4 linked regions of the Homo sapiens genome follow. The protein of the gene in region 4 purifies or fractionates together with the protein of the main gene of each other region. This does not show direct contact. Each region holds a gene or a part of one and is shown on either strand. Other genes may lie near its edges. The genes, in order: AFG3L2, VPS13C, SKAP2 and GBA2.

The links.
Region 1: the proteins of GBA2 (region 4) and AFG3L2 purify together in Homo sapiens (affinity purification with mass spectrometry; one large-scale study listed by BioGRID and IntAct). This does not show direct contact.
Region 2: the proteins of GBA2 (region 4) and VPS13C purify together in Homo sapiens (affinity purification with mass spectrometry; one large-scale study listed by BioGRID and IntAct). This does not show direct contact.
Region 3: the proteins of GBA2 (region 4) and SKAP2 purify together in Homo sapiens (affinity purification with mass spectrometry; one large-scale study listed by BioGRID and IntAct). This does not show direct contact.

The regions. Positions count from the first base shown.
Region 1 is NC_000018.10:12,355,294-12,361,042, reverse strand, and holds part of AFG3L2 (mitochondrial inner membrane m-AAA protease component AFG3L2), read left to right. Parts: intron 1-991; coding exon 992-1,116; intron 1,117-2,099; coding exon 2,100-2,373; intron 2,374-4,211; coding exon 4,212-4,349; intron 4,350-5,749. UniProt on the Homo sapiens protein: Catalytic component of the m-AAA protease, a protease that plays a key role in proteostasis of inner mitochondrial membrane proteins, and which is essential for axonal and neuron development.
Region 2 is NC_000015.10:62,052,706-62,058,454, forward strand, and holds part of VPS13C (intermembrane lipid transfer protein VPS13C), read right to left. Parts: intron 1-5,749. UniProt on the Homo sapiens protein: Mediates the transfer of lipids between membranes at organelle contact sites. Necessary for proper mitochondrial function and maintenance of mitochondrial transmembrane potential.
Region 3 is NC_000007.14:26,734,451-26,740,199, forward strand, and holds part of SKAP2 (src kinase-associated phosphoprotein 2), read right to left. Parts: intron 5,515-5,749; coding exon 5,437-5,514; intron 4,429-5,436; coding exon 4,345-4,428; intron 1-4,344. UniProt on the Homo sapiens protein: May be involved in B-cell and macrophage adhesion processes. In B-cells, may act by coupling the B-cell receptor (BCR) to integrin activation. May play a role in src signaling pathway.
Region 4 is NC_000009.12:35,738,111-35,743,859, forward strand, and holds part of GBA2 (non-lysosomal glucosylceramidase), read right to left. Parts: intron 5,217-5,749; exon of another isoform or gene 5,183-5,216; coding exon of another isoform or gene 5,166-5,182; intron 3,799-5,165; coding exon of another isoform or gene 3,781-3,798; coding exon 3,562-3,780; intron 2,955-3,561; coding exon 2,715-2,954; intron 2,519-2,714; coding exon 2,416-2,518; intron 2,253-2,415; coding exon 2,099-2,252; intron 2,014-2,098; coding exon 1,888-2,013; intron 1,691-1,887; coding exon 1,518-1,690; intron 1,310-1,517; coding exon 1,205-1,309; intron 1,000-1,204; coding exon 892-999; intron 794-891; coding exon 642-793; intron 523-641; coding exon 416-522; intron 265-415; coding exon 122-264; intron 43-121; coding exon 1-42. UniProt on the Homo sapiens protein: Non-lysosomal glucosylceramidase that catalyzes the hydrolysis of glucosylceramides/GlcCers (such as beta-D-glucosyl-(1<->1')-N-acylsphing-4-enine) to free glucose and ceramides (such as N-acylsphing-4-enine).

The sequences.
Region 1 (5,749 bases), on a different chromosome or scaffold from region 4:
TTCTAAAAAAAGATGATTGCAGGTTAGAGGAGAAACAAAGTTTTTTTGTACTATAAAATGGAGCTAATACATGCACAGTGCTTGAAATGGGGTCTTCTAGCTAGTAAACTCCATAAATGTGAGCTGTTAAAATCAGTGTCCTCATGGTTGTGTAAAGGCAGTGTGACATTGTGGTTAGGACACTGGTTCAGGAGCCAGACTGTCTGGGTTCAGATCCCAGCCTCTTATTTCATGTGTGACCATGAGCAAGTTTTGTCATCTGTAGAATGGAAACAGGAGTCAGGGCTCATATTCAGTCAGTAGACACGAGTACAATAGGAAATAATTATGTGCTGATTGGTAGAATAGCCTTGACCTGGCCCCTGAGGTGTCCCTGTGCTGGGCCCTCTGGGTCTCTGCAGCTCTAGAGAATAAAGAGGGAGTGCCTGGCACAGCAAGGCGCATCTGTTCCAGTTGCACAGTGGGGTGCGGTGCTCGGATTTTGAACATCACCCCCAGTGATGGCACCTGCTTCTTAGGATGGTCCTCAGGATTGAATGAACTAATGCATCTGAAGGGCCCAGAACAATGCCTGGTACTTAGTACATGCCCAGTAAACTTTAGCTCTTATCCCTGTTTCACAGTAGTTTTAAATTTGGGAATAGGGAGCTAAAATACCTAGGAAATAGAGGAAGAGGGAAATAATGCATATTTATTTTAAAAAGGATTACGTTTTCAAATAGGTTTTTCATTCTGTTTTTTGAGTTTATAATTTTAGAGCCACTGAGATATTGCTGCTAAAGAAATGCTTATTTGCCAAGAATTGCCAAGTGTTCTCAATGAGTGACATTTAATCACCACCATTATTAAAGCCAGTCTTTTATTATTGTTTATTCTTTAATTTATAAATTTTCAGTATTTCTGGAAAATTCTTAAAAAGTTGAACCGTTTAGTGAATTGAACCTTTTAGTTTCACTACATTCTTAGGATATTTGTTTTTTTGTTTTTATAGCAATACGTTTGGTTTAATATTGGCAGTGTGGACACCTTTGAACGGAATCTGGAAACTTTACAGCAGGAATTGGGCATAGAAGGAGAAAATCGGGTGCCTGTTGTCTACATTGCTGAAAGTGATGGGTAATCTCAAATATAATATTTTGTAGACTGTTGACTGTGCTGCCTGTGGTTCACTGTGTTCTGTCCCTGGGTGCAGGGCTATACATTATATTCTCAAACAGGCCTTTATCAGTTTGGCCAGATTTTTAAAAAACTATTAGTAACTCACTAGTTTTTGCATGACTCATTCATTTTCTTTTTTTTTTGAGGTGGGGTTTCGCTCTGTCGCCCAGGCTGTAGTGCAGTCGTATGATCTTGACTCACTGCAACCTTTGTCCCCACCCCAGTTCACGCGATTCTCCTGCCTCAGTCTCCAGAGTAGCTGGGATTATAGGCTTCCACCACCATGCCCAGCTAATTTTTGTATTTCTAGTAGAGGCAGGGATTCACTATGTTGGCCAGGCTGGTCTTGAACTCCTGACTTCAGGTAATCCACCTGCCTCCGCCTCCCAAAGTGCTGGGATTACAGTTGTGAGCCACCACACCTGGCTTTTTATCTTTATTTTTATTTTTATTTTTATTTTTGATTCATTCCTTTTGTACACATTTATACTTATCTTGATGAAGCAGTGGTTTAGGGTATTAACATTCAATGCATTGACCTTTGGTAGGATTTTAGCATAAAGAACCCCTTTGTATCAAAGAGTGCCATTCCCATCTTTGAACTATCATTTATGTTTACATTTCACAGTTTTCCAGGATTTTTAGGTGATTCTTCTCTCATCAGAACTTCTTCTTTGGGGGTTGTCTTTAATAAGACCATGTTAGTAACCCCACTTAAAGTCTGGGCAGATGCTCCATTTATTTCGAAGAGTTGGTTGCCATGGAGCTTATTTGGGAATTCTGTTGCCTTTGAAGAACACTTGCAAGTTACCCTCCTTTGTATTAAGTGCAGAAGGTATACCTTGGTGTAGCTATATATATTTATATTGATATCTTGCACCACATGTGAAAGCTGGAGGTGAGCAGCCAGTCCTAACCCGTGTTGCGCTGTGTGTCCCCAGCTCTTTTCTGCTGAGCATGCTGCCTACGGTGCTCATCATCGCCTTCTTGCTCTACACCATCAGAAGAGGGCCTGCTGGCATTGGCCGGACAGGCCGAGGGATGGGCGGACTCTTCAGTGTCGGAGAAACCACTGCCAAGGTCTTAAAGGATGAAATTGATGTGAAGTTCAAAGATGTGGCTGGCTGTGAGGAGGCCAAGCTAGAGATCATGGAATTTGTGAATTTCTTGAAAAACCCAAAGCAGTATCAAGACCTAGGAGCAAAAATCCCAAAGGTAAAATGAAATTTAAGATTAACTTTTTGAAATGTTTCTTGATCTCTGAAGTTATAATTCTGTGAAGTTTGATTACTTATTATAGATAGCTGTTTTTCTGTCCTTCCTCTTTCTCAGCTTACTAGGCTAGCCTCTGCCCAACTCGAGGATCGTTTTGGGTCAGTTCTGTGTGCATGTGTCTTGTATAGTGTATGTATTCCTGAAAATATCTGTGTCACCTCCTCTTGGAAGATTTTCTTGATTCGTCTTCCTTTTCCCTCCAATCTGATTTAGATGCCCTATCTCTCAGCAACTGTAGGCCCGCTGTAGCTCACTGACAATGTCACACTCTGCTGTCACCCAGTGTCCCTTCGAGGGATGTATGTGGACAGGACACCTGTGCTGGCGCTGAGGTTCACGGCACAGGATCCAGTGGAGAGGACACAGCACTCACCATCACCTTCCCCTTTCCAGCAAATATGCTCTTGCCCACTGTGCTAGTGGTGGGCTGTACCCTACAGGGCTTGGTGCCCCTAGGGCTAGGCGTGGAGCATTAACTTCATATTTGTTAAATGGATCAGCTATTAAGTAAATGAATAAAAAGGTATAATTCTTTTAAAAGTCCATGAATAAATTTTACTTTAAAGGAATCCTTTGAAAGATAATCATTTCCTTGATTTTTATGTCTTACTTCTATAGATAAAAAGTCATATTTTATGAATTTATAACTTACTTAGTACCCGTTTGCATTACACCTAACTGTCTCTACAACTTAATATAATAGTTGTGTAGGGCCAGGCGCAGTGGCTCACTCCTGTAATCCCAGCACTTTGGGAGGCTGAGGTGGGTGGATCACCTGAGGTCAGGAGTTCGAGACCAGCCTGGCCAACATGGTGAATCCCTGTCTCTACTAAAAATACAAAAAATTAGCTGGGCATGGTGTTGTGCGCCTGTAATCCCAGCTGCTCAAGAGGCTGAGGCAGGAGAATCGCTTCAACCTGGGAGGTGGAGGTTGCAGTGAGCCGAGATCGTGCCATTGCACTCCAGCCTGGACAAGAGTGAAACTCTATCTCAAAAAAAAAAAAGTGTATTGTTTGAGCAAACACATCTTTCTTTGAAGTTAAGTTCATCATTGGTCGTTAGATTTCTACTTCATTTGTGAAACTTTTAAAGAAGAAAATAAGCAAAATTTTAAAAATACCTTAAGGTTTTATTACAAAGCCTAGAAAAAATATCATTTGACCATATTATCTACCTCCTCACAGTATTTGGATATGGTAGTGTGGTAGTATGTCTATAAATAAGAGAGGATACTGTTTGTGGGTAGTCAGTGGAAATAAAAACAAATTCACAGTTAGGTTTTAAGTTGCACGTCCAACCATGCTAAAAATGTACTGATTTGTACATGAAAGTAGAAGTCAGAAGTTGGGTTTATTAATTATTTGAGCTCAAAAACCAATTTTACTTGTAAAGAGTAAAAGAATTACATAAATCAGGAGTGTGGTGTTGGTGTCTTCTTAAATTATTTAAGTAAACCTTAGCAGATTTATTAGTATATTCCTAGCCCAAGTCACCCTTTACATACTGTTAGACTAAAGGTCTAAAAATCAGCCCTAGGAAAAAAAGGAAATATTTTAAATTTCACATTCTTACCAAATTTTTTGAAACAAAATTATTTTTGATAATCTTTTTATTCTTACTAATATAAAAATGTTCTACCATAGCTCAGATGTTTAAGTAATATTTAATATATATCAATAAGATTTAGAGACAGAGTTATATCTTGTAATTATTTGTGGATACACAATTTACTTTTCTGGAATTCTCATTAAATGTAATTTCTTTTTTCATATCTGAAGGGTGCCATTCTCACTGGTCCTCCAGGCACTGGGAAGACGCTGCTAGCTAAGGCCACAGCCGGAGAAGCCAATGTCCCCTTCATCACCGTTAGTGGATCTGAGTTTTTGGAGATGTTCGTTGGTGTGGGCCCTGCTAGAGTGAGTCTCATTCTGTTCGGATGGTACAGCTTCCTTGCACCCACCACTTCACCACAGATGGAGGCACTTGCTAGAGATGGCCCTTCCCCCTAGAGTGCTAGAGTGACCTCTCACCAGTCCCTGGCCTGAGCTCTCCTCCAGGCCTAAGACTTCAGCAAGGCCTGTGACTTCCACCCCACCTTCCCTCGCACCAGCTAGGACTGCAGTCTGCTACCTATAGTAGACCAATTTAAAGAATTGACGGCTGGGCGCGGTGGCTCATGCCTGTAATTCCAGCACTTTGGAAGGCTGAAGTGGGTGGAACGCTTGAAGTCAGGAGTTCGAGACCAGCCTGGCCAACATGGCGAAACCCTGTCTGTACTAAAAATAGAAAAATTAGCCAGGCGTGGTCGCGCATGCCTATAATCCCAGCTATTTCGGAGGCTGAGGCAGGAGAATCTCTTGAACCCAGGCGGCAGAAGTTGCAGTGAACCAAGATGACACCACTGCATTCCAGCCTGGGCAACAGAGTGAGACGCTGTCTCAAAAAAAAAAAAAAAATTTTGCTTTATTTGTGGATTTTTTTTTTTTTTGGTGACAACATTTATTGAGATATAATTGACATACCAAACAATTGATCCCTGTAAAGTATACAGTTCAGTAGCTTTTAGTAATTCACAGATTTGTGCAACCATCACCACAATCAGTTTTACAACATTTCCATTACATCAAGAAGAAATCGTGGCCGGGCGTGGTGGCTCACACTTGATATCCCAGCACTTTGGGAGGCCAAGGCAGGCGGATCAGGAGGTCTGGAGATCGAGACCATCCTGGCTAACATGGTGAAACACCATCTCTACTAAAAAAACAAAACCAAAATTAGCCATGCGTGGTGGCGGGCGCCTGTAGTCCCAGCTACTTGGGAGGCTGAGGCAGGAGAATGGCGTGAACCTGGGAGGCAGAGCTTGCAGTGAGCTGAGATCACGCCACTGCACTCCAGCTTGGGTGACAGAGTGAGACTCGTCTCAAAAAAAAAAAAAATATGTAAATCGGGAGTCCTAAGCAAACTACCCAAAGGAATTTCCTAGTACAGACATTCCATGTAAATGAAATTATACAATATGTGGTTTTTTTATGCCTGATTTCTTTCACTTAACATGTTTTTGAATGGTAACTCCATGTTTAACATTTTAAGGAACCACCAGACTGTTTTCCAAACTACTTGCCCATTTTCCATCCCTACCAGCAATGTGTAAGGGGTTCTGATGTTTCCCCGCCCTTACCAACACTTTGATGATAGCCACCTTAGTGGGTGTGATGTAGTATCTCGTGGTTTTGATTTGCATTTCCATGATGAGGAGTGATGTTGAACATCTTGTATATGCTTATTGGCCATTTGTATATTTGTATATCTTCCTTGG
Region 2 (5,749 bases), on a different chromosome or scaffold from region 4:
AAAATATTATAGCTATTCATTTCAAATGAATCTAGCTAGTCAACCCAAATTAACCAATCTAGACTCCTTTTAATGAGTTCACAGTGACTTTGTCTTCAGAGAGGAAGACAGGAAAGAGAAAGGAAACAACTCTCTCACTCTTCCCATTTCCCTACTGAAACAGGAAGTTTTGACAAAGGAAGGTAGAAAGCTGCAACATCACCACTGAACTTTCTCCCTTTCAGTTCACTTCAGGGATCCCATAATATTGAGTAATGTGGTAGAGCTTCCTAGCAGAATGGTTACCAAAATACCAATTCTCAGTTTTAGTTCTAGAAAAGGAGTTAATTTTTAATTAGTAATGCTACTTAAATATGTGAACAGGTGCTTAAATTTAAATTTTTAAGCACCGCTTTAACTGGTAGTAACTGAGCCTAAATATGTATTACACTAATGACCTTTTCATTATTGTTTACTTTTATATGCCATAGGACAAGCTAATGAGAAATGTGGCCTCCACTACACCAAGTGCTGGCTGGGAGGAAAAGACTAAAGAAAATCCCTCTACAGGTTTAGAAATACCTAGATACTGACATCTTTTATGTGTCAAAGCCAAAAAAAGCAAAAAGAGCTGCTTTTTCTTTCATTCTCAAGCTGCCCTACAGGTACCTGTTAAGACAATATATTACAGTATATTACACTTGGACCCACAAATATCAGCATGAGCCTGGAACTTCATTTATCTTGTCACTGTCATTGACTGTGGCTCTTTACTCACCAATATCGGGTGAAGAGCAAAAAGGAAAGATAAAGATACATTATTTAACTACCTTTTCTCTCTATGAATGCGGAGGAAGTGGCAGTACCACTCATCCAATGAAGGATCTCACGTTGTTCTTGCCTTGCTCAAATCACAGAAGTTTAAAGACAGAAGAGATGACCTTGTCTAACCTTTCCACTTACAGATAAGCAACCAATGGTCACTTGTCAGAGACATGCCAAAAGCCACACAACTAGACAGAATCAGAGATGGAATAAGATTAAAGAGGTTTGCTCATTCCCAGTCCAGTGTTCATTCTCCTTTCTTATGCTGCACTGCTCCAACAATATCTGGCAGCTCAAGGGGAAGTGTCAAGAGTGGGATAAACTGTCAGGAGTGGGATAAACAGCACGGGTTCAGTCTGGTTTGCAGGGCCACAGATTCTGAGGGCATTGCACTTGGCTTCTATTCCTGGTCACCAGAGTCACCCTTGTATCTAACACATCACAGTTCCTATGTTGATTCCACCTGTCCAGTGGAATTAAGAACAACAGAGTTCCGAGTACTGGAGGATTTTCCTGCTGACTCTCCACAGTAAATCATTTTGAAAAATCAAATTGACAAAGGTTCTACATTGCAACAATACTACTCAAATCATATTGCAAAAGATGAGGCATTTCAACATACCTTTTCAAATATATGTTACTCTTAAAACAATTATATCCTGGACACATCTCAATAGCTAAGGGCTGTGAAATTTATCTATTGGTACCAGTTTGTGGGGAACAAAAATCTAGATAAACCTTCCTACTTATGTAGGCAGTATGTACCCACCAGGCACTTTTCTGAACCTCTGAAAGCCTGACTTACAAACTAGCTGGCAGGTAATACTGTAAAAGCATAAGCATAAATTCAAAGGCAAATAGAGGTTTTTTTTAAAAGAAATTTGTTTGGAAAATAAGAAATGTTTAGATATGTAATGATAGCTCTACACAAAATTATCACTCAATAGAAGATTGATACCTCTAAGAAAACCAAACAACACATGTTCTCATTCATAAGTGGGATTTGAACAATGACAACACATGGACACAGGGAAGGGAACATCACACACCAGGGCCTGTCAGGAGGTGGGAGGCAAGGGGAGGGAGAGTATTAGGACAAATACATAATGCAGGGCTTAAAACCTAGATGACAGGTTGATAGGTGCAGCAAACCACCATGGCACATGTATACCTATGTAACAAACCTGCACATTCTGCACATGTATCCCAGAACTTAAAGTAGAAGTAAAAAAAAAAAAGAAGAGGAAGAAGAAGAAGAATATTAATACCTCTAAAAGTCTGAAGTTAGAAGAAACATCCTTATGAAAATAAAACAAAGACTGTTTTCCATCACCCAGCCAGGTTTGTTAATCATTATTATTATCAATATTATCAACAATGACAAAGGTTTTTGACATAATCTATCTCAACAATACACTGAAAGTTGTATATCCACTTTACAGATTACGAGAGTGAGAACTGAAATGTTTTGCCCAGGGTCCCACAGCTAATAAATAACCAAGGTCTCAATTATCTACAGTGGCAAGGATTTTTAAAAGGAAATTCTGCTTAAACTACTTTTAAAAATACATAAGAATTGCTTGGCATTAAATAAAATCTTTAAAGAACAGAAACAGAAAGACAATGGTAGGCTGTGTTTGCTTTGCTTCTCAAATTTAAAGGCAACATCTAAAGTATACTTCCTGATTCTGGACATTCCAGTAATTTTCCCCAACCTTCTCAACCTTTTTTTTTTGAGACGGGAGTCTCGCTCTGTCACCTAGGCTGGAGTGCAGCGGTGCAATCTCTGCTCACTGCAACCTCTGCCGCCCAGGTTCACACCATTCTCCTGCCTCAGCCTCCAGAGTAACTGGGACTACAGGCGCCTGCCCCCATGCCCGGCTAATTTTTTGTATTTTTTTTTTTTTTTTTTTAGTGGAGACGGGGTTTCACTGTGTTAGCCAGGATGGTCTCGATCTCCTGACCTCGTGATCTGCCTGCCTCGGCCTCCCAAAGTGCTGGGATTACAGGTGTGAGCCACGGTGCCTGGCCTCTCAACCTTTTTTAATTGTAAATTTCATTATGAACGCCTATATATACATATATGAATATATGCACACTATGATGTTTTCCAAATCATGTTAACACAATATTTCGATCTTAAAACTACTTCCAAAGATCATCCAAGCAAAGATTACGCATTTTTATTGACATGATACCTTTCAGTCACTTAAGATATCAATTTCTCTCTCGAATTACAGATTTCGTTAAGAGTAATCTACTTCTTCCGTGTCCTTTTTAAAACCTTACAATTTTTTCAGCACCCAGTAGGTCCCTTACAAATGCAGAAGACAATCTCAGTCTTCTTCTTAGACTAGGGTTTCTCAACTAACATTTTGAGCTGGACAATTCGCTGCAGGAAGTTGTCCTCTGCATTGTAGAATGTTTAGCAGTACTCCAGGGTCTATCTGCTACATGCCAATAGCACACCTCTTCCCTCAGTGTGGCAACCAAAAAGTCTCAGACACTGTCAAATATACCCTGGGTACAAAGTCACCTCCCACTGAAAATCACTGCTTTAGGCTAGTTAGACATTCCAGTTAAGATGTATCAAAGTAGTTTATCAATTGATTCCAAAGAATAGTAAGATCAGGTATGTGAGGTGGGCGGCAAGCCACCCAGGCGCCAAGGCAAGAGACCAAGGACACGAGCTGTTCCAGTATAATAAAATATAAAACAAGAATAGTTATACCATATAGATCTTAGAGATATATGAATATCATTAATCATTAGTTTGCAGTAATTACTCTTTATCCCAATATTATAATAATCCTCGCTGTACAATCATAACCTAGGAAAAACCAGGCCATACAGAGATAGGAGCTGAGGGGACATAGTGAGGTGTGACCAGAAGACAAGAGTGCGAGCCTTCTGTTATGCCCGGACAGGGCCAGCAGAAGGGCTCCTTGGTCTAGCGGTAACGCCAGCATCTAGGAAGACGCCCGTTGCCGAGCGGAAGGTGGTCTAGCGGTAGCGAAAAGTGTCAAGGAAAAACACCCGCGACTTAGCAGACCAGGGAAGGGAGGCTCCCTTTCCCCGGGGGAGTTTAGATAAGACTCTGCTCCTCCACCTCTTGTGGAGGGCCTGACATCAGTCAGGCTTGCCCGCAGTTATCCGGAGGCCTAACCGTCTCCCTGTGATGCTGTGCTTCAGTGGTCACGCTCCTAGTCCGCCTTCATGTTCCATCCTGTACACCTGGCTCTGCCTTCTAGATAGCAGTAGTCAATTAGTGAAAGTAGTAAAAGTCTCTGATATGCAGAAATAACGGCATAAGCTATCTTTCTCTCTGTCTCCTCTCTCTCTCTGCCTCGGCTGCCAGGCAGGGAAGGGCCCCCTGTCCTGTGGACACGTGACCCACGTGACCTTACCTATCATTGGAGATGACCCACACTCTTTACCCTGCCCCTTTTGCTTTGTATCCAATAAATAACAGCGCAGCCAGACATTCGGGGCCACTACCGGTCTCCGCGCATTGGTGGTAGCGGTCCCCCGGGCCCAGCTGTCTTTTCTTTTATCTCTTTGTCTTGTGTCTTTATTTCTACACTCTCTCGTCGCCGCACACAGGGAGAGACCCACCGACCCTGTGGGGCTGGTCCCTACAGTGAAATATTTACAAGATGAATTCTTCCCTTTCTCAAGACTTGAAAATTCAACAACAACAACAAAAAAAAAACTCTGTGAACTGTAAACCTTATCTGCTAAAGCAAATAGTTGTCAAAGAAGATTATATAGAATTTTCAATTTTTTGTAAAACTTGTCAACATCATGGTTATCATAAAATGTCACCTATTTTATTAAATTAATATTCCCATTTGTTTACCCAAAAAAGTTTAAGACAAATTTCTTTAGCAATATTTTGAAAGAACAGGAAAAATCAACTCAGATATCTTGCCTTCCAATTTTATTGAGAAATTAGGGTTATCAACAACAGACTGTGCAATAATGATAAAAGCTCGTGACTTCTAGCTTTATAGCAACCACAAAAATAAAAGGCAGCAAAGCTTTACAGAGGCAGAGTTGTGAGCTGATAAAGCTAGGAGAATCCCTGATTGGATGTTCACTAGACACAATATGTGAAAGAAATGGGTTTATTTGCTCAGGCCTATTATAAAGTTAATGTTGGCCACTGGCAGAATACCTTATTCTAAAAATTTAAAAATGAGATGAAAGAAAGTCTCCTTTTCTAGATTTCACCAAAAAAAGACAAAAGGGGAAATAACATAAAATTACGACATTTTTAATTTCAGTTGTGAAAAACTTCAAAATCTTCAAGCAGTATACTCCTCAATGTCATGGTAAAACCATTATCAGAAGAACAGAATATTGGCATCACCTTCGATGTTACCTAGTCCAACCTCCAATTTTAAAGATAAAAGAGAGTAACATTTGATGGCAATGGAACCTCTGACTATATCCATACGTTTTATCTTTTTAAAAAGAAAATGTCTAAAGTAAATATGGCATAATATTATAACATTGAAATATGAGTAATTACATGAAAGTATTATATCATCCAGTATGATTTAAACTTTTCAGAATTTAAAAATATTTTTTCTATAAAGTTTAAATTAAGATGAAGAAACTAAGGCCCAATAAGGTAAGTGGCTTGTCCAACACAGCACACCATTCACTAGGCCTATTCAGATTTCAGATTTGCTACTCCGGTGCGTTTTCAAGTTTCAAATGTTTACAAACTATAAGGAATCACTGGAAAGAATATTGCCAGTATTCTGAAGAAATACTTGATTTCTGCAGAAGATGCTGGTCATTTAATTCCTTAAATGTGTCTTTCTTTACTTACCTTTCCTTTACATTGTATTGAGTGTGGTGGGGGGATGTAAACAAAGAATGTACAGTAGGCCCTCCATATTCACGGACTGAACTAACTGCAGACCAAAAATATTTC
Region 3 (5,749 bases), on a different chromosome or scaffold from region 4:
ATCCCATCCACAGTCTTTCACAACTCAGAATCTCTGCTATTCCCTTACCTGGAAAGCCCATTTTACCCTTCTTCCCTGTCTTAGTCTGTTTATGCTGCTATAATACCCAAAACTGGGAAATTTATAAACAATAGAAATTTATTTCTCACAGTTCTGGGAGCTGGGAAGTCCAAGATCAAGGCACCAGCAGGGTCAGTGCCTAGTGAGGGCTGCTCTCTGCTTCAAGATGCCACCTTGTTGCTGCATCCCCCAGAAGAGTTGAATGCTGTACCGTCACATGGCGGAAAGGCAAGAGAGGGGTTCCACAGCTCTCTCTAGCCTTTTTTATAGAGACATATCCCATTCTTGAGGGTAAAGCCCTCATGCCTTAATCACCTCCCAAAAGCCCCAGCTCTTAATACAATATCCTTGGGAGTTAATTTCCAACATATGAATTTTGGAGGTACACATACATTCACACCATAGCATTCAACCAACAAACTCCTACTCATTCTTTCAGGCCCAATGAAGTGTTCTCTCCACCAGGACATCTTCCCTAACTTCCCTAGGCAATTAGTTTCCCTCCTTTGTGATCCAAAGATACCTTATTTAAATTACTTACTGTACTGCATTGAAATGGTCAGTTTACCTGCCCAGCTCCCTCCTCCAACCCCACAGCATCCTTCCCTCTCTCACTGATATCCACAAAACCCAAACTGTGAGCACCTCTAAGGATCTTTGGATCCTCAGTGCCTACTAGCTAACAAGTGCCTGAAAAAATATTTATCAAATTTAGAAAAAGAATGAGTAAGTGAATGAATGAATGAATGACTTGAAGGACATCTGAACATCTAGGACCTAAGAATTTTGATGAATAAGACTCACGACAATCAAAGGAAAAGGAAGGATATGAAAGGATGAATAAGATTTCATAAGGTGTTAAAATACATACTATATGTATTTGTTACTTAAGGGTCCCAAATGGCTATAAATAATAAATACAGACAATATTTATTGGTACAATGGTAAGTGCATTATTTACCCAACAGGTTGGAACTACTCTTTCTAAGCCACTCCTATCTTGATAGGTCAATATGTTTTTTGGCACACGCAATATGGTAGAAAATGTGAACTATGTATCTGTCAAACAGTAACAAAGCACAGTTTAACCTAGTAAGTGGTGTCAACTCCTTCTGTGCCTCTATAATCCATTTATCTAAATCCTACTTAGTTGGAGGATTATAGTTCTCATATAGCTAGATATGAGTTCTTCCCATTAGGTAAATGGTTCACACATACAGTAAACAAGGCTATAAAAAATCATATCTAATTTCACAAAAGAAAAAAATTATTTGACATATTTTCCTGGTAAGAAAAAGATATAAAGGAAGGAAATCGGGATCATGCCAAACAAGTAATTAAAAACTGTCTAAAGACAGATCTTTTTTTGGAGTCCCTTAAAAGAGAGGAACTGGCTAAAAATTTCGAATGAAACCGCCAATAGAAAAAAGAACCACAAGAAACAAATCTAAAATTTCACTGGAAACAGGAGGCTGCAAAGTAAAAGGGAAAAATTTAAGGAAACACAAGCCACATCTTCAGACATCAACATGAAAAAGGAATGCTAAAATGGTAATTTTTTTAAAGTGGAAGTGTCAGAGGCTTTTAAACCAGAGCAACTCCGTCTTGAATAGGGGCTGAGTAAAATAAGGCTTTGACCTATGGGGGCTGCATTCCCAGGAGGTTAGGCATTCTTAGTCACATGATGAGATAGGAGGTTGGCACAAGGTACAGATCACAAAGACCTTGCTGATAAAAGGATGCAGGAAAGCAACTGGCCAAAACCCACCAAAATCAAGATGGTGATGAAAATGACCTTTGGTTTTCCTCACTGCTCATTATATGCTAATTATAACGCATTAGCATGCTAAAAGACACTCCTACCAGTGCCATGATAGTTTACAAATGCCATGGCAACATCAGGAAGTTACCCTATATGGCTTAAAAAGGGGGAGAAACCCTCAGTTCTGAGAATTGCCAACCCCAGTTCAGGAAAACTCATGAATAATCCACTGCCTGTTTAGCATATAATCAAGAAGTAACAATAAGTGTAAGCAGCTGAGCAGCCTATGCTCTGCTTTGCCTATGGAGTAGTGATTCTTTTGTTTCTTTACTTTCTTAATAAACTTGCTTTCACTTCCCTCTACGGATTGGCCTCAAATTCTTTCTTGCATGAGATCCAAGAACCCTCTCCTGGGGTCTGGATCAAGACCCCCTTCCAGTAACAGAAATGACAGAAAGGGCTAAATGGATCACAAAGTAGTTAAAATGCAAATTACAAACAATGTTACTACCATTAGGTCTCATCAAATAAGAATAAAAATGAACTCAGGAATTCAAGATTGCAGTAAGCTATGATGGCACCACTGCACTCCAGCTTGGGTGACAGAGTGAGGCCCCCGCATCTCTAAAAAGAAAAAAAAAAAAAGGAATGTAACTAATATCTAAATAACTCTAACTAAAATGTTTTCATTGAATATATTAGTGTTTGAAGTAAATATTAACACGCTTTGGGTTTTGGGGAAACTCTTGCTAATCTTTGACCTAACCATTGTTATATGCCAGTCAGGACTAGAAATGGAGGAAACACTGACATTAGTATTCATTGATTCTTAAAGAAATTAGAAATGAGAAGCCTAATTGAATCAAAGTCACAAGGATCTGAAACCTCCCTCCCCTGGTCTGGTGAAAAAGAGGATATTTTGTGGAAGGTAGTATCTCGATCTAAATTCACAATATCATACAAAACTATATTTCTATGATCTGTGATAATCGTAACTGAACTTGGACTCTAAATTTTCTGACCTACTTCACTACTGACCCTTAGCAGAAGAAAGATGCTTGTTTATAGCTGTTTACAGTTTACACTTCACTGATGCCATTACTACATCTGAACATACTGTAAATTAGTGATGGAATGCAAACTAGCTACTAAATTAATTAATTTGTTAATCTCATTAGCCAAAAGGTAAGAACAACTTCCAGCATTATGTAAGTATTTCAGACTTATCTGAAATATGACAATCTTACCTGTATGTTTTTAGAATGGGGGAAAAAACTCTAAAAACTATAAATAATGTCAAATAAAACATAAATTTCCAAACAACACTGATAACAATTCCATAGGAAAGCTTACATTCAGTGATACTTTTGCCTTTTTCTTCTTAAAGTGTCCTTTCTGGAAATGAACATTATCTATTTTGATACAACCTTTACTTTATAATATTCAACTCCTAGCCTGTTTTCCCCAGAATAAAACAAAACTCAGAAAGCTTACAATCTTTAAATTTCATTATTTGGTGGCTTTATTTGTTCAAATAACAATCTTAAAATTATGTGAACTACAACTGAGAGATTTATTAATTAACAATGAAGTTATAAAATGTATCCTATTATTTCTAAATTAATGTAGTGACAATAGTGGTTGAGAACATGGACTCTAACCATATTCTCTAGGTTAAAATCCCAAATTTGAGCTGGGTACAGCGGTGTGCACCTGTAATCCCAGCTACCTGGGAGACTGAGACAGGAAGATCACTTGAGCCCAGGAGTTTGAGGCTGCAGGGTGTGATGACTACACCTGTGAACAGTCACAGCTCTCCAGCCTAGGCACCGAGACAAGACCCTGTTTCTAAAAACAAAGGAAAAACAAATTCCTAGATCTGCCATTTTCCAACTCTGTGACCTTGAACAAGTCACTTAACCTCTCTGTTCTCAGTTTTCCTAAAAGTCAAATTAATGGTGCTAATAATAGTACTTACAGAGTTGTTGTGAGCTAAACAAGTTAACATAGCTAACGTACTTAGACAAAGTGCTTAGAACGGTGCCCAGTATATAGTAAATTCTATGTACACGTTTGCTGTTATTCCTTAAATCTGTAAAGGGAGCTCAGAAAGGTGCTGTTCGTATTTAATTTTATCTAATTTTATTTTAAAATATTTAAGAAAAATAATCTATTTTCTGCCATTGAAACTCTCACAACCCTATGTTCTTAACTTTTCCAGAAATTCTACAACAGTAGGCTGGATAATAAATATTCCCTAAGGTGAAAGGCCACACAGATTAAAGTTATTTTACTCTCTTTTCTAATTCAATACAACACAATTGTTTTAGCTCTGAGGGTATTCTGGTATTTGGAGCATTTGTCAAATAATGAAATGAATCATAAATTAGTCAGATTATAATTGTTATAATTCTCAGTTATTATTAGTTTGTCTTCAGTTTACTCTGTACTCAAAAGAGGGGGAAGGGATGGCCAAAAATTCTTTTGCAATAGTAGTTGATATAATTGAACACCAACATTACCTTTATCACTTCCATAATAATAGAATACCGTTTTACTGAGAGCACACCACCGTTTCTGCCATTCAAATCCCAGAAAGCTGTGATCTGCAATAAAGAGGGGAAAATGTAAGGCCATTTCCTTACTGTAAAAGAAAAAGTTAATTAATATGATTTCTAAGATTCCTCTGAGCTCTAACATTGTGTGACTAATTTGTATCTTCTTTTCCAAGAGACAAAAAACCAAACAACAACAAACCAACACAGCTAAAGGGAATAAAGTAAAGTAGCTATGGGGCTGCCATACTTATGGGATCAACAGCATGGCTAACAAAGTTTTCTGACAGGGACAGTCAAAAAGGTATCTGACTATACAGTCTTGAGATAATTGATCCATCTGGGTCTCATTTTCTCATCTGTTATAAAAAGAAGGGGAGGAGCTAACCTAGATTATTTCTGTTATCTCTTTCAGTTTTAAAATTCAGCTAAGAAAGCTAAGAAAAGCAAAATGAAATATAAATAGAAAGGCCTAAAGGGACTACAAGAGAGATAAGCAGAATGGTAATGAAAAGACTGTCTGCTTTTCATTTCTCATATTATAAAACCACCTCCATATTTCATTTCCATTAAATATTGGTGTTGAAAGAGTGAGACCATATGGTCAACTCCCAATTATCATAGCCAATGGAGAGGAACACTGAAATGAATAATAGACAATGGCAGACAAAACTCCAGGCTTGATCTGAACCATGGTGCATGCCAGTTTGGGCATAGGAGAACCTGCTGCTCAGCCCATTGAGATACTGGTGAGAAATCCCACCTTTGAGAATACAGTCATGGCCTGCAGCTTTCCTTTGAGAGGCAGGAAACAGCTCCTGAATCATTTACAAATAACCAAGGTTGACAACTAAAAACCTAACCTAATGTTTTCTTATTAAAAATTATTTAAAGCTAAGAGCTATATTTTGTGGTTTGGATAATGTCATCCAGATTTTCTTACAATCTTTAAACTCTTTAATCACCTAAAACGAATACTGCCTCCACATGTATACTACAAACATGTTCTATCTAAGGATGAAATTATTTTTACATTTTTCATTAGAACCTTCAGTTTACCTTTTCTGCGTTTTTCAAGGTAGCCAGCCTTTAGAACAAAAGGAAGGTCTTGTGCTGCAATTGGAGGAAACTGGGCTCCTATGAGAAGTTGGGGAGAGAAAAAAAAAAGCAGTGGGTAATCCATTTCAGAATAAACAAGTGCCAGATCTCATTAGATTCAGTGTGCTTTTAATTACTGAAATTGTTTAAATCTAAGTCTATTAGCTTTGTTTCAGATCCATTCCCTAGATTAATCCCCTCTATTCCTCCTAAAAGTCTCAAAAGTAAAAAAAAAAAAAAAAAAAAAAAAGTTCTGTACTCCTATATGTTATTA
Region 4 (5,749 bases):
GAGACTGAGGCCGAGAGCTGCTGTCATAGTTGTAATAGCGGCCTGGAGTCGAGGAAGAGAAAAATAAGGCTCCTGGTGTCCTCTCAGCTGCCTTAAGACTACTTAGGCTCCCCGAACTCACCATTCCACAGCAGTCTCTCATAGGCTTCTTGGCCCCGGCTGAGGATAGAAGAAAACTTATCCTGGATGTCCTGTGCCCCACACAGAGCAGCCATCTGGACCATCACAGCCACAGCTGCCAGCCACAGCCCTCCACAGTAAGCACTGATCAGGGACATGGGTTTGGGGGTCAGACTGGCAGCTCCAGCTGCTCCCATGCCGTGTAATAGACAATGAGTCATTCTTTCTTGAGCCCTACAATCCCTTGTTGCCCAGTTTCTCACCTCAGGCCTCCTGGAAACCCCTACCCGCTAACCTGGGGCCTGTGGTCACCCATCCATCATAGGTCTGGTCTGCATAGCCTCCATTTTCAATGAGTCCATCATGGTCCTTGTCAAACTTCATTTCAGATTCCATCACAGCCTAGAGAGGGACCAAGATGTTGAAGACCTAGGTACCGAGGAAAGGCAACAACCAGCTAGGCTCTTCCCAGACACCAACCATACCCCTGGCACACTGGCCACTGCATGTGCATCCCTTACTAGACACACAGGCCACATGTCCTTCAGGAAGTTTTGATCACCCGTGAGGTAATAGTCCCGATAAACCTGCAGCACAAACTTCAGGTTCAGGTCCTTCCAATCAGCAGTATCATGGATTAAATATGCATTGACGCGGAGCCATGGTTCATCATCTGTGGGAGAGGAGGGGACTTGGGTCACTTGCATTGGTGGATAGGGTAGAGGGTGCAAAAGTTGAGGGAGGGAAGCTGACCTTGGGGTGGACTTTTACCTGGGTCCCCAATATCATGGGGGATGACGTTCCTCCTTTTCACAGGTGCCATCACCCCACTCATCAGGTACCGTCGCCGTGTCAGGTCCTCCCTGAGAGTGGCCAGAGCTGGGGGAGAGACACAGAAGGGAGGCAGGGAATGGGCATGCCTGAGGAGGGGCACACAGCTATGTGTGTGACTGCAGTGGGGAACCAGTAAGCAGCATGCAGATACGTATGAAGGGAAGGGAAAGAAGAGACAATCTGAGGGACCACAGAAGTTCGGGGGTATGGGGAGCCAAGAGGGCAGAAGCGGCACAAAAGGGATCCTCACCCATGTCATACTGTAGGCTGAGCTCAAGTTTGGGCCAGAGCATGATGAGGGCAAAGGAAGCATAAAAGTGGACATCATATGTGTTGTACATGCGGTACTCCTGGCCTGGAGGAATGAATGAGACACACTGTTGCCAGAATTCCTGCTTCCCCTTCAAACCCCTCTGTAGCTTGTCCTCTAGATTTAGAGGTGGGGCATTGTTACTAGTCCACACCCAACACCCCCTCATCCTAACCAATACCCTGGGGTAGGCAAATCCATCATCCTGACTTGGGGATGGCCTGCCATATCCCAGCCCACCAGCATCCTGTACCCTCAAGGTAGCCAAATCGACCGTAGTCCCGTAGGGTGGGGCGGAGGTGACACATGTTTCTGCCCAGCTCCTCTGGTAGGGAGTCCTCAAGAACTTCCAGCCACACTGTGCCTCCATCAGCCAGGAAGTATAGTTCATTGAACAGCGCAGATTTGTACCAGGCAGGCAGTGATCTGGGAAGCGAGGAGGAGGAAATGGTTTAAGGAACATGTACCTCCCAAGATGGAAAGGATTTGGGGGTTCAGCAGAGTGGGATCATCAAATGAATCCCAGTGCAAGTCTACTGACTTTGGTGGGTGGAGAGTAAATCGAGGAGTCCCATTTGGAGTGAGTGCCCAGGAGAAAGGCAAGAAATGGGCCCCACTGGCACCTGTCATCCAATACCGGGCTCTGCCAAGCTGAGATCCTCTCTTCCCACTCTGCGTATCGGCACAGTGCATAGTGGCTGAGGGCAGGTGCTGCATCTCCATCCTGGCCAAAGAACCTTGTATACCGCCTGGGGTGGGAAGGGGAAGGATGAACACAAGCCCCAGGTCAGAGCCCCAGCACTCTGGATCCTTACACTTTCTTGGTCCCCTCACCTGTAGTGGACTTGGCCTTTAGCTCCAAACATGATCCTGGGCATGTCCCAAGCCAGTGAAAACTCCAGGCGGCACTGGCCTCGAGGTCGCAACTTGCTGGAAACACACACAGCTCCAGCAATGCCTACTCCTTTCTGCGTAGGGGTGCTTTGGCCTGAGAGAAACACAAGAGAATTCAGGACAGGAGCCCCTTCAGCCCCAGGGATAGGGATCCCTAACATGGAAACAAGGCCTACTTATTACCAGGCCTCCCACCCCTGGTCCCAAGACAGGGACAACCTCTCTTCCCACCATCTCCCAGTCAGACCCCCCATCACCAGTGGGAGAGTCCAGCTGTCCATCCTGAAGTAGATCCTGCCACACCTGCTGCCCCGTGCTGTCAGGGTCAAAGGCTGTGATGTGGGTTACCGTGGTAGCTGCCTGTGAAGGGGTCAGGGACTGTGAGGGCAGGCTCCACGAGTACACTGGGTCCCGGCTAGCTCCCCAGCTCCTCTTACTTACTCTTAACCTCCCAGGCCCAGGGGCTTACAGGAGTATGATGAGGGTGGATGAAGAGACCATGCTGGGGTGGAGGTGGGGTTCAGGGGCTAAGGTATAGGGCAGGCTCTTTCCTTACCGTGACTCGTGCAGCCACAGCCATCGTGTAGGGGTTTGGAAGGGTTGGATGATGCAGGAGCAGCCCCCGGACAGTTTCCCCGCTACGCTCCAGACAGAAGGGCTCATTCCACAAACCCCCTGGGGCATCGTCTCCACCACCCAGTCCATTCCGCATGGAGAACATGATGGACACATCTAGAGCTTCGTCCCCTTCATTTTCCACATCCCACACAAAGACTCCTACAGGCAGGCTGCTGTCCTGGGGGCAGAAGATTAGACTCAGACGGTCCCAGTAGAGCGCCTCCTGACCCCACTCTGCTAGGATCAGTCCTGGGCACACAGAGGACCTGACTCAAATACTCCCCAGTGTACTCTTCTTTTGTCCACTTGCATCTCCCCATATTCCCAGGCAAGCTGCCTAGCAGGGAATATAGAAGACCAGAACCAGTTGGGCGGTGGTTCTGGGAAGCCAGTGTGATGTTCATGGCTCCAACCTCCCTTTCACAGGCCATGCAGTTTCTTTTTTTTTTTTTTTGGGGGGTGCGGTGGCGCAATCTCGGCTCACTGCAAGCTCCGCCTCCCGGGTTCACACCATTATCCTGCCTCAGCCTCCCGAGTAGCTGGGACTACAGGTGCCTGCCACAACGCCCAGCTAATTTTTTTTTTTGTATTTTTAGTAGATATGGGGTTTCACGTGTTAGCCAGGATGGTCTCGATCTCCTGATCTCATGATCCGCCTGCCTTGGCCTCCCAAAGTGTTGGGATTACAGGCGTGAGCTACCGCGCCTCGCAGGCCATGCAGTTTCTAGCAGAGGCAGGTCCTGGGGAAGGGAGGGCAATGGAAGATACAGATGTGGGGGCCTCACCTGGTAGTCATGGGGCAAGATGGGTGTGATCTGACGGCAGGTGAGGGTGACATTCTGGCCAGGAAGCTGATAGACAGTCCAGGCTCGGGGATAGAGGGCATGGTAGAAAGCAAAGTACCCACACAGGCCCCAGTTCCAGCTGCGGAGGACACTTGGGCGCTCCAGGGACAGGACTTGCTGGTACACAGTCTGCCCTTCCCGACGCAGGCACACTGTGAACTTAAGAGGGCAGATAGGCTGGAACGGGGTAAACCACAGGGACCACAGACTAAGTCTTCCCTCTCCTCAAATCAGCTCCTCCCCTTTCAGAGCCTGCAACTGTTACCACTGCACCATCAGCTTCAAGTCATCCCCCAGGCTCAGTGAATCACCAAGTCCTGCTACCTCCCCATCCATCTATCTCCCAAGCTTTCTCTCCCTTCTCCACTACGGTGGTGTTAGCACCTCACTTAAGCCCAATCTCCTGCTTTTTCTGTGGCCCTTTTCATCTGGGTAGCAGAGTGATCTTTCTCACAGGCAAATCAAGATATGTCAGTCCTTGGTTAGGATGTTTCAGTGACTCCCCATGGCCCTCAGGCTAAAGTCTCAACTCTTGCCTGGCTTTCAAGGCCCTTCTTGAGCTGGCCTCTCCCTGCCCATCAGACTCATCACCTGTTCAAGCACCTATAGTCTGTTCATATAAAAACACTCACTGTTCCTTGAGCACACTACATTCTCTCCTCCATGCCTGTGCTCATGCTTGTTCGCTATCTGGTGAAACCTCTCATCCTTCAAAGCCTAGGTCAAAAGCCATCTCTTCCTCCTCTACTTCTTCCAGCAGTGAGTCATTATGTGTGCCCCCCTCCCCTTCTATTCTAGCATTTGGTGTATTATGTTATAATGTATTGACTGACCATTCTGTGTCCCTGACTGCTGTATGGATTCTTCTGAGGGTAGGGACATTTTTTAATTCACTGATGCACCCTTCTTCAGAGTTGGCATGTATGTGGAGGGAATGAGCGAAATCTGCAGCACCGTCCCTTTTTCCACAGTATACTATCCACCCCTCTCCTTTTAGCACTGATGTGGTCTCACAGTCTCCATTTCCCCTAAGTCTTATTTTCTCAAAAAAAGTTTTAGCTCTTGGAGGGTAGGAGCTATGAGGGATTAATATCCCTTTCCCTGGTTCAAACTATGTCAAATATTTTTATTGTATACAGTGGGCTCTCCATATCTGTGAGTTCCACATCAGTGGATTCAACCAACCAAATCTAAAATATGTGGAAAAAAAGTTGTGTCTGTACCGAATATGTACACACTTTATTTACTGTACGGCACAACAAGGGTTTATGTAACAATGTATGAGGTATTATAAGTAATCTACAGATGATTTAAAGTATATAGGAGGATGTGCAATGGTTATTTGCAAATACTATAAGCCATTTCAAATCAAAGACTTGAGCATCCTCGGATAGCAGGTCCTGGGCCCAACCCCCCATGGATACTGAGGGACAACTGTATAAAATAATTTTTCATTTTGTTGGAATGGTACATAATGGTTAAGACCACAAGCTCTTCACCCCAGAAAGAAATGGTTCTGAATCCCAACCTTTCCATTTACCAACCTTGTGACCTTGCGCATGTTACTAAACCTCTCTGGATCTTAGTGTCCTCATCTGCAAAATGAGCATAATAGTGGTACTTCCCTTGTAGGATTGTTTTTAATATTAAACAGTATACAAAGAGCCTAGCACAGTGTCTAGCACATGTTAAGCATGCAATAATTACTTTAATTGTAGAGTCACAATTCTGGAAGCCATTCCCCTCAGGATACCTAAGGGATGAGGCAGAGAGGGATCTTGGGACATGGGCAGGGCTGGTAAACGTGAACCAGGAAGGGTATTGTCATTAATTGGACTAAAGATTTGCTAGTCATTTTTCCTTTGAAGATGAGGCTGAATGCTGGAGCCAAGAAAGAGGAACTTCCTAGGCAACTCTAAAGGGGCGGTCAACTAGAGAGAGATGATGAGAGGCAGGACACATACTTCTGGCAATTTAAGGCCCAGATGTGATGCAGGAGCAAAAGGAAAAAAGTGAAGCTTCAGAAGAGGGAAGAAGGCTAGAGATCTAAGCCTGGGAGAGAAGGAGCTTTTTAGACCCTAAGCCAGGAGACCTCCAGGGGAGTGATCAGCAGAGGAGCTGAACTTTG